4 linked regions of the Homo sapiens genome follow. The protein of the gene in region 1 interacts with the protein of each later gene in a biochemical or structural test. Each region holds a gene or a part of one and is shown on either strand. Other genes may lie near its edges. The genes, in order: GPRASP1, OPRK1, CHRM2 and OPRL1.

Region 1 (2,739 bases):
CGTGAAGGATCAGGCTCCTGTTCAACTGAACACGTGGACCTGCAAATGGCCCTGAACACGGGGCTAGGATTTGATTCAAAATGGGCCTCATCTCCTGCCCAGAACCAGGACCCCACTATGGCCTCATCTTCATCAGCTAATGTCCTGGACCCACAGTTGCTTCCATTGTCAGTCCTGTTATCTACCTCATCTTCAGCCTCAAACCAAGACCCAACAATGGCCCCTTCCTCATTTTCTGGCTTGGACTCACAGGTGGCCACAGTTCCAGTTTCCTTAATGGCTTTGTCTCTAGACCAGAACCAGGACTCAACAATCATCTCTTCATCATCCTCTGGCTTGGATACACAGCATGGTCCTGCTTCTTCACTGACTTCTTTTCCATCCCAGAACCAGGACCCAAAAATGGTTTCCTCTTCAGTCTCTGACTCCATTTCCTCTACTGCCTGAGATCCAGCCTGTATACTGGCTTCTTCTTCAGGCCAGAACCAGGACCCAACAGTGATTTCTTCCTCCTCAGTCCCAGGCTTTGACTCAAAGCCGACTCCTGCCACTGCCTCCGGACTGGCCTCTTCTTCCCAGAACCAGGACCCAATAATGACTTCTTCCTCTTCAGCTTTAGGACTGGATTTGCTGCAAGACCCAGCCTCTCTTCTAATGGTCTCTTCTCTGGCCCCAAACCAGGACCCAACAATACCTTCTTTCTCAGCTGCTAGCCTGTCTTCTTCTCTAGTCTCAGCAGCTGGCTCTAGTCTGTCCTCTTCTCCAGCCCAGAACCAAGAACCAATAATGTCCCCCTCCTCAGCTTCTGGCCTGGACTCTTCTCTGTCAGTAGCCTCTGAAATGGCTTCATCTTCTTTCCAGAACCAGGAATTGATTATGGTCTCCTCTTCAGTCAGTAACTTGGCCTTTTCTCCAGTCCCATCTATATTACTCTCTTCTGTAGCCCATAACCAGGACCCTATAATGGCCTCTGGCTTTGTGTATTTTCTGGACCAGAACCACGAATTGACAATGTCCTCTTCCTCCTCTGGCCTAGACTTCCAACTTCCTCCACCGGCAGGATACATACAGGGTTCTTTTTCTGCCCAGAAGCAAGACTTATTATTGGTCTCCTCAGCCCCTGCCATAAATCTGCATCTGACACCAGTCCCATGCTTCATACTGACCTCTTCTTTGGCTCCAAAACATGGTATCATGGCCTCTTCCTTGTCCTCCAGGCTAGACTTGCTGTTGACATCACCCTCCACACAAGCTTCTACTCTGGTCCAAAACCAGGACCCAATAATGGGCTCCTCCTCCTCAGCCCCTTGCATGGTGTCACAGCTAGTTTCAGCCCTACAATCCATATAGGTCTGGTTTTCAGCCCAAAACCAGGACCCGAATATTGTCTCTTCTTCAGCTCCTGGCCTGGCCTCTTCTCCGATTCCAGCCTCTATATCAACTTGTTCTCCAGACCAAAACCAGGGACCAATGACCTCTTCTTCCTCAGACCTTGTCCTGGACTCACAGCTGACCCCAACACCAGATTCCACACTGGCCGCATCAATGACCCAGAACCACGACCCAAAAATGGTCTCTTCCTCAGCCTCTTGGTTGACCTCTTCACCAGCCCAGAACCAGGAACCAATAATGACCTGTTCATCATCAGCTGCTAGTATAGATTCAGAGGTGGCCTCAGCCCCAGTTTTCATACTGGTCTTTTCCCTAGCCCCAAATAAGGAATCACCAATACGCTCCCCATCAGTCCTTGGTCTGGATTTACTGCTAGCCCCAGTCCCCATACTGGCCTCTTCTTCAGTCCAGAACCAACTCCCAATTATGGACTCATCCTCCACTTGTAGACTGGACTCTATGCTGGCTTCATCTGCCATGCTGGACTCGTCTGTAGCCCAGAACCAGGTCCCAATGAGGGCTTCCTCCTCTGACCTGGCTTCTTGCTTGGCCCTGGCTCGGGCCTTGGTTTTGGCCTCTTCCTTTGTCATTGCTCTGGCCCTGGCCTCTTTCTTGATCATGGGCCTTGAAAAGGTATTAGCATTTTCTTCAGGCCAGAAACAGGACTCTTTTTTAATTACATCTATAGACCCAGGCATGAAATCAATGCAAGCTTCTCGCTTGGCCCTGTGCCTGGCCCTGTTATTGGCCTCCTTCCCAGCTCTCATTTTGGACCTGAATTTGGCCTCCTTTCCAGCCCCAAACCAGGACTCCAAATGGTCTTCATGCTCAGATCCAGAACTTGATTCAACATAGACTTCTTTCTTAGACCTAAACCTGGACCTGCTATTGGGATCTTCCCTGGGCCCAGACCAGGTATTGGTTTTATCTCTGGCCCAGAACCAGGGTGTCTTAACAGACTCATCCTCAGAACCAGAACTAGATGCAATATAGAGCTCCTGGTTAGTTTGGGACCTAGACATGGTATTAGCCTCTTGATTGGCCATGTGCATGGATCTGTTACTGTCTTTTACCCTATTCCCAGGATGAAATTTTGCAGTGACCTCATCTCCACTCCAGAACAAGGAACTCACAGATTTGTCTACCCATTTGAAATCAGAATTAGGAGAGGCTTCTTGTTTGGATGTAGGCCTAGGACAGCACCAGGACCCCATATTGGTCTCCTCCTTTGACCTAAAAGAAGGCTGGAATCCTGCTTGGTAATGGGCCTTCCTTCTAGGAAAGCTCTCAGTGTCTGTATTAACCAGTTCTCTATCCTCAGACAGGTACTTTGTTTTAGCAACCAAG
Region 2 (4,520 bases), on another chromosome or scaffold:
CATTAACCTTTTACTTGTGAAGACCTTAAAATGTATGTGCTCTAGCCATAAGTGAACTAGATAGATTTCAGTAGGTTGGTACTCCAGGATGGCAGTAGAACTCTTCGCTTTTCATTCATCATCAAACGTAACCTTTAAGTATTGGGAGGTGGGAGAATGGAGAATGATGTATGTGAACTATCCAACTTCTTTTATATTTTTAGCTGAACTTATCCCCTTATAACACACTTTAGTGTTGGATATATTTGGGAAATCTATCCATTAAAAATCCTAGCTAATCTACAGGATTTTTTTTTCCTTCTTACATGTCAAATGTTCCCCATGGAGTTATATTTGCACATAACATCTAAATGTTATTTTAGGATTCTTCATTCTTTTTAATCCTAGTCTGCAAAAGGTTGTAGAGCAACTACAAAGCTCTTTTCAAACTGCAGACTTCAGGGGCTCATTCAAATAACAATATGTATCTGTTTTACTTGAGCACCTAAATATGATATGGGTAGAAACAGAGCTATTTTTTTTCCTAGAGCTTTCTTTTGCTTAACAATGTTTCTATTACCCCACCACCAAATAAATAGCTTCTGTACCAAAGATCTCCTAAAATTTTTAATTAAAATTTAGAATACAGTTGTCTTTTCTTTTGTCTAATTGTCTCTTTAGTGGAGGCCAGCCCTGAGATTACTAATGACTTGGACAAACAATTTAATTTTAAAATATTCCTTCCTTCTATAACCTTTACTCATCATGGATAGAATTCCTGCGAAATGCAATAGGCAATTATGAAAACCAAGGGCACCAAGCTATAAACACTAGTTGTTGATGAAATGAGCTTTATAATATGTGTTTGGCGACTTAAATGATGGTTTTTAATGTCAGAGCATACATAGGAATAAAAGACCTGACATTCTCAAGCAAAAAAGTAAAAATAAAAATAAAGCAGTATTTTATTATGATAATTTTCCAAGAGAAACATTTATGCTACCATTCATGATATGGTTGTTAAAGTTCATAATAAATAAATGGCCTGTTTCAAAACTAAAATCAAGCTTAAAAAAAATCAGCTATTCATCGTTTCAGAGTCCCTAGCCAGGGTGACTTGCATCCCGCCCTTATTTCATAGAGACTTCTCAAAGGAACACAAGCTTCCTACTCCCTCTCACAGGTGTGTTGACAAAGCTCTAGTGCTCCCAGAAAAGGAAACACATCTATCTTAAGAAAAGTGCAGAACAAAGTTAGGTTTTCCTTTTCTTGTTTTTCTTTCTTAAAGTCAGAATCACTTTGCTTACCAAAAAATTAGCATATATGTGGATATTGGGATACTTATTATTGGAAGTTGACTTGAAGAAATTTCCACACACACACACACACACACACACACACACAAATAAAACCTTCAATTTCTCATGGTGAAAAAAACAGCGAAGTAGTTTTTGAAAATCTCCACAGGCCATGTTTTAGAGGATAAATATTATTTACTGATATTCCTAACAAATGGGATGCCATTTGATACTAAAAAGGCTCATATATGCATATCAACAACGCTAGAGCATATATCAGGTTTTGTTTCATAAGCCAAAACACCAGTCTGAGGAGTCCCAGGAAATTCGGAATTATCTTCAGTGCATTGGGTGGGCTTGAAATTTATCTTAAGAAATATTTGCAAAGGGCATAACAAAGTGCTCCAAACTGGCGCAGGCAAATGGATTAGTTCCTTTACCAGGAACCCCTGACCCTGTTGTCAGCACCCTGGCACCTTGCCCTGCGCATAGAGTTTTCAGCAGAAACACTGGGCCCTAGGGTGGGGTCGGGGGGTTACTCTGAAATCTTCCAGACGCCCCTGGCCGCTCGGATTCGCCTGTGTGAACCTCTCAGCACTCCACCAAAAACTCCCAGAAAATCCTTCACCTCTTCTAGGAAGCCACCCTGTAGCATTTCCAGGATCCTTCACGGAACAGAGTCCCCACCACCTGGCTGGCTGCCCCCACTGCTGCTCCAGTGGCGGGGCCTGACCCTCACTCCCTGCCCCGCCCAGCCCCCAGCGCTGCGCTGTCCCCGCGCTCACCGGATGATCACGAACATGACCAGCGAGTTGCCCACCAAGCCCACGACGAACACTACGGAGTAGACCGCCGTGATGATGACCGGGATGGCCGGGGAGATGTGCGCGGGCTCCAGCTGCGCGTCCTCCGAGCCGGCGCTGCCGTTGCTGTCGGGCTCGGCCCAGCCGGGAAACCAGGCGCTGCTGTTGGGGGGCAGGCAGGCGCTCGGGGCGCAGGTAGGGCCCGGCTCCCCGCGGAAGATCTGGATCGGGGAGTCCATGGTGGGGCGATTGCAGCAGGAAGGCGAGGACAGGCGGCACCTGCGGCGCTGCGGGAGCGAAAGAACCGGCTGGACGCGGAGAGGCAAACTTTGCCCGCGCCCTGGCCAGCGGCGCTGGGGACCCGGAGCCTGCGGACTCCCACCCGGGCCGCAAGTCGCCGGGGGCAGGACAGGGAGAACGGACTTCTCGCTGCCTTTCCGGCCAGCAGGCGCGCCGCTGGGTGCCAGAGAGGGGCGAAGAGCGCTCGCTCCTTCTCCCCCAGCCCCTGAGGTGCCTCCCTCACCAATTCTAGGCACCGGCCCCTGGTGGAACTGTCCCCAGACTGCCTGAGTCCCCAGGGTCAAGCCCCCTTCCCACCTCCCAGCACGGAGCTCTACCTAGAACTGCACCTCGAAAGCCCAAAGCTTACCTATGGTTCCCAGAGACAGGCGAAGGCGAGGTTTTTTACGGGACGCCCTGGTAGGTGCTGAACCGCGCGCTCACGAGTCCCGCTCAGCTCTTGGCATCACCTGCTCTCGGACCCCGGCCCCGCTCTCCGCCCGAGGGCTGCTGTTCCGCCGAGCGCAGCCCCCGCCTCTCAGCGCACGTCTCCCACTACTGGCGGCGGCTCTGCGGGGCGGGGCGGGGCGGGACCGGCGGGACGCAGCCGGGACGCGGCTGGGCGCTGGGGGCCTGCGGGCGGAGAGCTCGTCTGGTGCGCCCGCCCCAGGCCGGCAGGTCCCTGCCCCGCCCCGCCCGCCCGGAGTCAGCCCCCAGCTCCCCAGCCTCCCAGCCCCGCGTCCCCTCCAGCCCCGCAGGCTCGCCCGGCCCACTAACTGCCCGAGCGGCACACCGCCTGGTCCCCGGCCATGCAGCCTTCCCCAAGACCTGAGACTGAGCCATTTAGATTTAGTAAAAAGGAGGAGCATGCCTATTTAGTGCAAGTATGCACCTGGATTTTCATATTGTGTCTAGAACTTCTTATCTGCATAGTTCGCAGTCAGGAACTACGCTTATTAGAATGGCCCATCCAAAGAAAGTAACAAAATGATCCAGTTAGAATAAGACCAGTTCATAAAATAATGACTTAAAAGACACATAAATAGAATATTTCCTTGCGTTCTCTTCCATTCCGTCTGCTCTAACTGGGATGACAGGCTGCAGACAAACTGCACCTTACGGGTATTACCTGAATTGCTGATAGTATCTGAGAAGGGCAAAACACTCTCCTTACCCGGGCCTCAGTGGTGCTCCAGGGAGGTGACAGTGTCTCTGTTTTACATTAATCCCTGCAGCCATCACGTTCTCCTCACTTCTCCCTCACAGTAGGGCTGCCTCCATTATACGGCCGCGAATCTGAGCGTCCGTAAATAAACTGTCACCATCATTTCTTTGCAAAACTCTGCTAGTCCAAGGGTAGCTGTCAGATCCTGCTGAGTGAGAGACATTCTCTTCTCAGGCAAAGGGACCGGCAAGACACAAAGGGAGCAAGGGCTCAGCCCCTGAGGTGAAGGTTCTGAAAGGGAGTGGGGAAGTTCCCCTTCTCCACAGGGTACTGGAGACAGGCCTGGGGGAGACTGGGGGTTTAGGCACCTCAATTTCCCCAGTGGATTCACTGCCTCAGGCTGACAAACACAGGTCCCCACTGCATCCCACAGCTAATGTCCATGCCACACCTGGACACACTAATGACTGATACAGCCCTTCCCTCCATCAGCGGAGGGCAGAAGGGGGTTCCTGTCTCTTTCAAGACGCCATGACCCCAAAGTGGGATTTGACCACCAGCGTCTTGCCGCCTGGAGATGAACAACTCTTTTGAGCAGTGTAATATGAAGAGCATAAGGAAATCTTCCCTTTGTTCAACCATATCCCTTCAACCCTTTCAAATAATTTTGAAAATTATTATCAAGTCTTAGAGTTCTTTTAAGTCTGATTGCAAACTGTCATTGAAGGATCACATCTCCTTCAGTAACACATCAGACCTGCTGAGACCTCATAAGGGCCTCAGTAGTTTTATTTCATTTGAGCACTCTTACCTTTCTTGTTTACCAAATTAATGGCCAAAATAAAGGGAAGACAAAATGAACAGAGCATTGAGAAGCCCTCAGGTGGCTCAGGTTGCCAGGGGAACCCACTCGAGTCTCTAAATCCAGGAAGTATGGCTGCTTCTGTGGAGTCATGCTCTTAGGAGTATGCAATTTTATCATAATATCAGATAAAA
Region 3 (3,961 bases), on another chromosome or scaffold:
CCTAGGGCTCCTGGTGTAAGTCCTGGAGTTCAAAGCCCGGTCTGCCTGGAATTCTGATGTCCAAGACCGCAGAAGAAAAGTCTATCACAGTTTCCAAGACAGATCAAGTCACCTTCTGAAATTGTTCTCACTGGGCTCTGGCCAATTGGATGATGCACTCCAACACTGAGGGCAAAATTCCCCATCTAGTCCATTCACACTCAAACACGAATTGCCTCTGGAAACACCCTCACAGACACATCCGAATTAATATTTTATCAGGTTTCTAGGTATTCCTTAATTCTGCCAAGTTGACACCTAAAATTAAGTTCACAAGTCCACCACTTGTCAGCCTAGTGTTCATATACATCTCCTCAAACTATATGTTATTTCCAAATAAAAGCAGTAACAAGGTGATGGTTCCACCTAACATGATGCAGGCCAATGTGATGAGACCATCCTGCATGCAAGTGAAATGCCAACCCCTTTTCCAGAATTCAGCTTTCAGGATTTCAACATTCAGAATTTTAATCTTTCAGGATTGTAATTTTGGGGATTTTGGACCTTAGCAATTTAGATCCTCATCAAACTAGTTGATTTTGAATCCCTACTTTTCAACATCAGTGTTATTCATTATTCTCCAGAGGAAATTATCAAAAATCTTTTAAAAACTAGAATATAAGTCCTATGCTTTATCAAAATTATGAATAATTAAAATGCAGAGTCAATACATTCATTTTTTGTATTTTTCAAACTAAGTGAATTAATATTAACATTTCATGAAACAGATACACATATAGCTCAACTCCAAACTGTCCATGAATTTATCTAATAAACAGAGAAAATGCTGCTTATAAGCAAGTCACAATTCTGATCTTACAGTTAGCTGAGCTATTAAGAAATTGTTGGAATAAGAACTGGGATAATAAAATGTTTTTGTTCAAATAAATTACCATGAATATACAATTGTATGATTAATTGCAAAAAAGGATTGTCAAAGGGAAATCCGATTAAAATAATTCAACTGATCTAAGTTGCATTCCATTAACATCATTTCCCTGATTAAACTCTTCAATATTTCCCAATGAGCTGCAGGCATACATATGTAATATTACATATAATCACCTTTTTGCTTAAATAAAATTATATTCTGTAATAATCTATGTCTCACTATGATTATGTCATCTTCTAACTATATAACTTTCCACAGCAATGCCAGGACACAAATATCTACCTGTTTTACTAGCCGCATAATATTCCATTGTAAGAGTATTCCATAATATATTTAACCAATCCCTTGTCAATGAATAGTTTTAATATATCTCGGGATTTTTTTGCTATAACAACATTTCTGAGTGAACATACTTGAGTAGACCTCTTTGTACATTTTTATGACTCTATCTGAAAGACACATTCCTAAATGTGGCATTCCTGAGACAAGTGTTTCTTAATACATTTTTATAGATACAGATTTAAAGTTCTATAGATATAGATACATTATCCTTCGTGGTGATTATCCCGCTAGTCCCACCAAAAGTATTCAACACTACCATTAATACTACGGATGGAAAATTGTTTTTCACTGTCTGGATTTGCATCTTTAAACTGTGGGGTTGAGTATCATTTCATATGTTTAAAAGTCATTAATGTCTAATTTTTCTTTGATTGAACTACTACATCAATGTTTTAGATTATTCATCTTTCATCTTTCCTTTTTTGCCAAAACTCTATTATATTAAAGACATTGGATAATTTTCTATCGTGCAATTTACAAATATTGTTTCTCAATTGTTATTTTGACTTTTTTGCTCTATGCAAAAATTTTAAAGGAATATGCAACAGTTACATATATTTTCCTTTCTGGCTTCTGAATTTTGGGTCTTATTATATTAAGGCCAAATCCCATTATTTGGGTTTTGTCAAATAAAATACTGGAAAACAATTGACTTTCCAAAGCAGAAAAAATTATTTTTTTAAATGTTATTTGTGTTATGAAGTTGCTTACCAAATTATTTTCTACATGGATTTCAAGGGCAAACCACTGCCCATTTCTTTGTAATTAATAGCATCCAAACTAATCAATATTCCCAAATTTTAATTTCTCAGCAATGCTTATTTTCTGACAGCTCACAGCAATTTTTTCAAAAAGAGGTGGAACTTGGGCTAGTTTCTGCTTCAGATGCTGTTTCTCCAGAAATGTGTCATATCTCTTTGATGAATTCTTAACTTTCTTTTCTAAATCCCCAATATACATTTTCCATTATGAAAGATCACTCAATTGTCATCAGACTTCAATGATATTATCTCAAAAATGATGATTATGTGTTTACTTACACACAACAGGATAGGGAAACAAGAAGTGCATTCAGGTTTAATAATTGCTTCTTCATCAACCCATGTCTGCCACCAGGCAGAGACCTTGTTTTAATCATCATTGAACGTCCAGAACACCTAATTAAGAGAAGCTGCTCAATAGATATGTGAGCACAAAGTGAAAGAATGAATGACTGAACAAACTGGGATTTCATCTTTCTGAGCCTTAGTTCCTTCTACAAAACAAAAAGTTTGGCAGAAAGAATAGTAAGATAATAGATTTGATAGTGGTTTGAAAAACAAAACATTCAGAAAAGTGGTATTTTCTCCCATAATTTTGTCTTCTTATTGATGTATTAATTTGTATGTCTATTCCAGAAATCTCTTTATGCTTTGGAAAGTCTTATGCATAATTTTGGCTTTTTCAGTTCAATATGCATTTAATAAGCAAATATTCTTGTGTAAGATATGGAATATTGGAAATGCTGATTATGTAATACTGATTACAAGTATGAAATAAAATAGAGGCAAGAGGAAAATAATTCTCATCTAGGGAGAGTATACTGGCTATTAAGTATTATTATATTATCTTTATTTTCACCATCCTCAGTGTTATTGTGAAAAAGGCTTAGAGCTTCCATGAGGAAAGGCACTGTTAACTATAAAAGTCACACATTCAATATTATACATTCTATGCTTTCTTCTATAATTGTGTCCTCTCACTAATTTACTAATTTTTATGTCTATTCCAGGAATCCCTTGATGTTTTAGAAAGTGTTGTTTGTAATTTTGGTTTATTTAATTCAATTTATCAGTATTATGCTAAGTTTCATGGATTGATGAGATATATAGGTAGATAGGTAGGTAGATAGATACTCATATCTGGATAAGGACATATTTAAAACATTACTGGACTTCAAGTTCATTGCCAGCCTGAAAGGTCCTTTTGAATCCTCCATTTGAAGGTCTTGCTTTTTACATGGGGAATTGAGGCAGGTAGACACAGTAATCATGCAGGGGAAGGGAGATTTGGGAGAAAATAATGTGGTTTAAAAGGAGAAACAACATTATGTATTTTAAACCAATGTTTATATTATGTTTGTTAATTTTATTCTATTTCCTTGCAGGTTTAAATGTTTATTTGCTACTTGGCTACTGATTAGAGAACGCAAAATGAATAACTCAACAAACTCCTCTAACAATAGCCTGGCTCTTACAAGTCCTTATAAGACATTTGAAGTGGTGTTTATTGTCCTGGTGGCTGGATCCCTCAGTTTGGTGACCATTATCGGGAACATCCTAGTCATGGTTTCCATTAAAGTCAACCGCCACCTCCAGACCGTCAACAATTACTTTTTATTCAGCTTGGCCTGTGCTGACCTTATCATAGGTGTTTTCTCCATGAACTTGTACACCCTCTACACTGTGATTGGTTACTGGCCTTTGGGACCTGTGGTGTGTGACCTTTGGCTAGCCCTGGACTATGTGGTCAGCAATGCCTCAGTTATGAATCTGCTCATCATCAGCTTTGACAGGTACTTCTGTGTCACAAAACCTCTGACCTACCCAGTCAAGCGGACCACAAAAATGGCAGGTATGATGATTGCAGCTGCCTGGGTCCTCTCTTTCATCCTCTGGGCTCCAGCCATTCTCTTCTGGCAGTTCATTG
Region 4 (4,513 bases), on another chromosome or scaffold:
TGCTATAGCAGTCCAGGATAAGACAGTGTCTGTCATTCAAACCTACAGAAAATCCTACAGAACTTGCCCATCTGCCCATGCCCTGGAGACGAGTACTTGGACTGGAGTGTGCCCGTGCCCACCCTCCAAAGCTGCTCTGTTTTGCAGGTCGGCCTGGGCTGAACTGGGCCAAACAGGAACCAGGAGGCAGATGTCCATGGCAAGAGTGTACCCAGCCCTAGAGGAGGCCGTCTGCTCATCCTTCACCAAAACTCCCCTCAGATCTGCTCAAGGAAGGGGAAATGAGCAGGAGCAGGGGTTCTTCTGAGATGAAATGGGGGTAAGAAAACCCTGCAACCTGGGTGGGAGCAGCACCCTCCCACTGTATCCTCAGGAAACCTCTCTTTCCAGGGGGCAGGGGAGAGGTGCAGCCATCGGTTGTTTAGAGAGAAACCGTGTGTGCTGAAGAAAAGGTAACAGCCCGGCCAACACACCATTAACTGGCTTCAACTCTCCCCAGGGTTGCAGCCTCCTGGGGGACGTTTCACTGAGGGCAGAGCCCAGCCTGTTGAGCAGCACAGGACAGGTACAAGAATTCAGCCTAAACCCATAGCCTCCTCCCACCCACGTGCCAATCCCAGAAAAGTCACTCCAGAAGCAAATCCCCAGGTGGCAGGAGCCAGAAACACTGGTTACAAAGAATACCCAGCCAGTGAGCAGGTGTTTATTAGGGTCCTTTTTCATTACCCCAGAGACAGACCCAGGGCTGGCTACGTGCACAGGAAGTAACGCTTGCCACATGCATAAATACGTGAAGGTGCACATTACATCAGCACAGATTCACAAAACACCTCGCCTTGGCAAGAAAACTGTAGCTAGGCAGCTCCCGTCCTCAGGGACTCCTGCCACAGACGTCATGGAGACAGCATGAGCCTCCCCAGAACAGTCCCCACGGCCTAGACTCCCCAGAGCAGGAGGAGCAGCCCAGGCTCTGTTGCGAGACAGCCATCACTTCCTGTTCTTTGCAGGTGCCTAAGGTAGGTTACCTGGCCAAGGTTTTGGTGGAAAAAATGAGTTTTTTCAATGTTGCAGGTCTTTTAATAGTTCATCTGTAGGAAGTGCATTTGCAAAGTCACCAACCTGCAGCTTCCATCTGTAGACCAGGAAGGGTGATTCTCTGGGTGACCACAGCGGGGCATCCCCTGAGGTACAGACGCCCCCCCCCCAACCCCCGCAGTGTCCTCACAGCCACCACAGCCTTTGCAGTTTGGCTCAAGCAAGCCCTGCCAGGCCCCACCCCTCATGCTGGCTCTGCTGTGAAGCCATCCTCCCGTTGGGCAGCAAGCTCAGGCCCTACACAGAGCCATCTTGAGGCTTGTAAATGAAGCAGGCGTCCCCAGAGCAGGACTCTGCTGTGGCCACCAGCTTCTCCTTCCACACAGCTTCCCCCGCAACACAGCACGGCCACTGACCTCTGGCTTCAAGCAAAGGAGAGGCTGTGAGGGGAGCCTTGGGAGGATGTGGGGACCCCCAGAGAATCTTCTCCCACCCAAACAGAGCAGTCAAGACCAGGAAAACGAGGCCTCCACTTTGTGAACAGAGCTGCCCATGTGGTCACGCGGCGCCTTCGTCCTGAGACACCTGCCCCACACTGAGAAGCAGGGCTGGGTTGACGGTCCACAGCATGATAGTTCATTGCACCGCTGGAGGGAATGGGCCAGGGCCTCTCGCTGGTCTCCTGAAGGGAAATGGGGGTTGGGCCCAGAGTCAAGCTGCAGTCAGGGATGAGGCCTGCACCGTGCAGCACACAGAAAACCTTCAGAGGTGCGGCTGGCCCAGGGCCAGCTCGGGGTCTGCAGCCAGGGACTGCCAGCCCCCACCTGGACACTTTCTCCTGGGGTGGCCCCGGCTGCACAGGTGGAGTCGGAACAGGCAAGTCCTCCAGGTGGCAGCTCCAAGCTCAGGGCAAGTCCCACCCCAAAGAAAAGCTGCCTGCTGCACTTCCCGGGCAGTGCCAAGCCTGTCCAGCTGCCCTGAGGAGACGTCACAGGGCTGAAGGCAGCTGGAGCCCTGCCATGCAAACAGCACACAGCACATGGGGGGCACAGGATGACACAGCTGCTGCTCCTCCTCCGGGTGCCTGCCCACCCAGGGTTCTGCCAACGCAGCAGCAGAGAGGCCAAGAGTCACATGAAGCACGGGGAGGGAGGGGCACGGGCTCCAGTCACGGCCGTCCACCAGCATGTCAGCTGCTTCCAGGTAGGTCCTTGTGTCCCCTCGGCCCTGCACCAGGAGGGCAGCTTTAGTCTGTCTGGGGCCATGGAGGTGGCCCTAATGCTTTGACCTGTCCCATGATGTCACTAGGTCCTCCTCTGGGACCGAGCATCCCTGGCCCACAGGGAAAAGCCCATCCCAGGCTCTGGATGCTCAGGGCCCAGGGTGTGTCCGCCTAGAGAGCAGTGACCTGTGTGAGCTCTGTGTTGGGCGTAGATGGGCTCTGCGGGCTGACAGGCACCATGGGCAGGTCCACGCCTAGTCATGCGGGCCGCGGTACCGTCTCAGAGGTCTTGCAGGCCAGGGCCACGTCCTTGGCAATGCTGCGCACGCGGTCAGACACCTGCACGTCCCGGCGCAGGGCAGATGCACAGCAGAACTTGCGGAAGCAGGCCTTGAAGTTCTCATCCAGGAAGGCGTAGAGGATGGGGTTGAGGCAGCTGTTGACGTAGCCCAGGGCCGTGCAGAAGCGCAGAATGGCCACGGCAGTCTCGCTGCTCGGCTGAACCCCCAGCCCTTGGGCCAGCACGAAGACCTGGACAGGCGTCCAGCAGCCCACGAACACAGCCACTACCACCAGCACCAGCCGAGTGATGCGCCGCAGGTTCCGGTCCTTCTCTCGGGAGCCCGAGAGCAGGCGGACTCCACGGAGCCGCCGGATCATGAGGCTGTAGCAGACAGAGATGACGAGCACGGGGACGATGAAGGAGAAGAGGAAGATGCAGATGGCAAACACCGGGCCCCAGTAATCCTGAGGGGTAGGGATCTCCACCAGGCACTCGATCTCTGCAGGGAGAGAAACGGGGTCAGAGTGGGCCCAGGAGACGTGGAGGGCACGTGGGCCCAGAGGAGCCACCCGGGAGCCAGGGAGCCTGGTGAGGGGAGGAGGGGACACCCCACTGACCTTCATCCTCGACCTGTGCCGAGCCCATGATGGCAACGGGAACACCGACAACAGAGGCCAGGGCCCAGATGGCCACATTGACAGCCTGGGCTTTGCTGGACGTGCGGACGTCGAGGGCACGGATGGGGTGGCAGATGGCTACATAGCGATCCACACTCATGGCAGTTAGGGTGAAGGTGCTGGTGAACATGTTGTAGTAGTCAATGGCAATGACTGTCTTGCACAGCGCATTCCCAAACGGCCAGAAGCCCAGGAGGATGTCCGTGCCCTGGAAGGGCAGCGTCAGCAGGACCAGAGTGTCGGCCAGGGCCAGGTTAAAGATGTAAATATTGGTGGCTGTCTTCATTTTGGTGTGCCTGCGGAGTAGAGGGAGAAGAAAGGCTTCACTTGGCCATGCTGGCTGGACCAGGCAGCAAAGGGCAAGGGGCTCCTCTTGGCCACCACAAGCTACAGTGGCCCTGAGTCCCTTAACATCAGAGTTCCCATGGGGGCTTGGTAAGTGATAGCTCCTGGACCCAACCTGAGACTCATGAGTCAGTCTCAGGGGGTAGGGCCTGGGGTCAAACGTCTTAACCAGCTCCTCAAGTGACTCTGACACACACAGAAGGATTCCAAGCCTTAAACACAGGTCTACTTTAGAGGAGTCAGGGCATGTAGGCTACCAGAACACACCCCGGATTCTGCACAGGAGCAAAGGTTTAGAGCCCTAAGGGAAAGAGTCTGCTCCCCTTGCTTTTGAGTCCCCTCCATGACCCCTCACAGACTCAAATGCTGACCCTACAGTTGCCAGAGGTTTCTGAGGGCTCCAGAATCTGTAAGAACATATCAAAAGGCTTCCAAGTCCACACTGCTGCCTAGCAATGGAGACCGAAAATGGTGACGGGGGGACAGGAGGGATGCTAATAAGGTATGAGTGTATCCAAGCACCTGAAATGGTGCTGGAAAGGGCTGGGAAAATCGTTGGTGATTAATAAATTTTTGTTAAATAAGTTAATGGTTGTAATAGTTGGGGGGGATTATGGTGGTGATGGTGGTGGTGATGATGGCAGTGATCATGGTGGTGATGGTGATGACTGTGAGCGTGATGGTAGTGGTGATGATGATGATGGTGATGATGGTGATGACTGTGATGATGGTGATGGTGATGATGGTGGTGGTGGTGATAGTGGTGATGGTGATGATGGTGGTGATGGTCGTGATGATGATGGTAATGATGGTGGTGGTGGTGATAGTGGTGATGGTGATGATGGTGGTGATGGTCGTGATGATGATGGTAATGATGGTGGTGGTGGTGATAGTGGTGATGGTGGTGATGGTCATGATGATGATGGTGATGATGGTGGTGATGGTGGTGGT

Evidence for each region.
Region 2: the proteins of GPRASP1 (region 1) and OPRK1 form a complex in vitro, tested with the Homo sapiens proteins (one study listed by BioGRID and IntAct).
Region 3: the proteins of GPRASP1 (region 1) and CHRM2 form a complex in vitro, tested with the Homo sapiens proteins (one study listed by BioGRID and IntAct).
Region 4: the proteins of GPRASP1 (region 1) and OPRL1 form a complex in vitro, tested with the Homo sapiens proteins (one study listed by BioGRID and IntAct).

Annotation. Positions count from the first base shown.
Region 1 is NC_000023.11:102,654,294-102,657,032, reverse strand, and holds part of GPRASP1 (G-protein coupled receptor-associated sorting protein 1), read right to left. Parts: coding exon 1-2,739. UniProt on the Homo sapiens protein: Modulates lysosomal sorting and functional down-regulation of a variety of G-protein coupled receptors. Targets receptors for degradation in lysosomes via its interaction with BECN2.
Region 2 is NC_000008.11:53,248,719-53,253,238, forward strand, and holds the start of OPRK1 (kappa-type opioid receptor), read right to left. Parts: upstream 2,920-4,520; 5' UTR 2,730-2,919; intron 2,368-2,729; 5' UTR 2,320-2,367; coding exon 2,063-2,319; intron 1-2,062. UniProt on the Homo sapiens protein: G-protein coupled opioid receptor that functions as a receptor for endogenous alpha-neoendorphins and dynorphins, but has low affinity for beta-endorphins.
Region 3 is NC_000007.14:137,011,401-137,015,361, forward strand, and holds part of CHRM2 (muscarinic acetylcholine receptor M2), read left to right. Parts: intron 1-3,419; 5' UTR 3,420-3,465; coding exon 3,466-3,961. UniProt on the Homo sapiens protein: The muscarinic acetylcholine receptor mediates various cellular responses, including inhibition of adenylate cyclase, breakdown of phosphoinositides and modulation of potassium channels through the action of G proteins.
Region 4 is NC_000020.11:64,096,802-64,101,314, reverse strand, and holds the end of OPRL1 (nociceptin receptor), read right to left. Parts: intron 3,514-4,513; coding exon 3,158-3,513; intron 3,040-3,157; coding exon 2,516-3,039; coding exon of another isoform or gene 2,429-2,515; 3' UTR 682-2,428; downstream 1-681.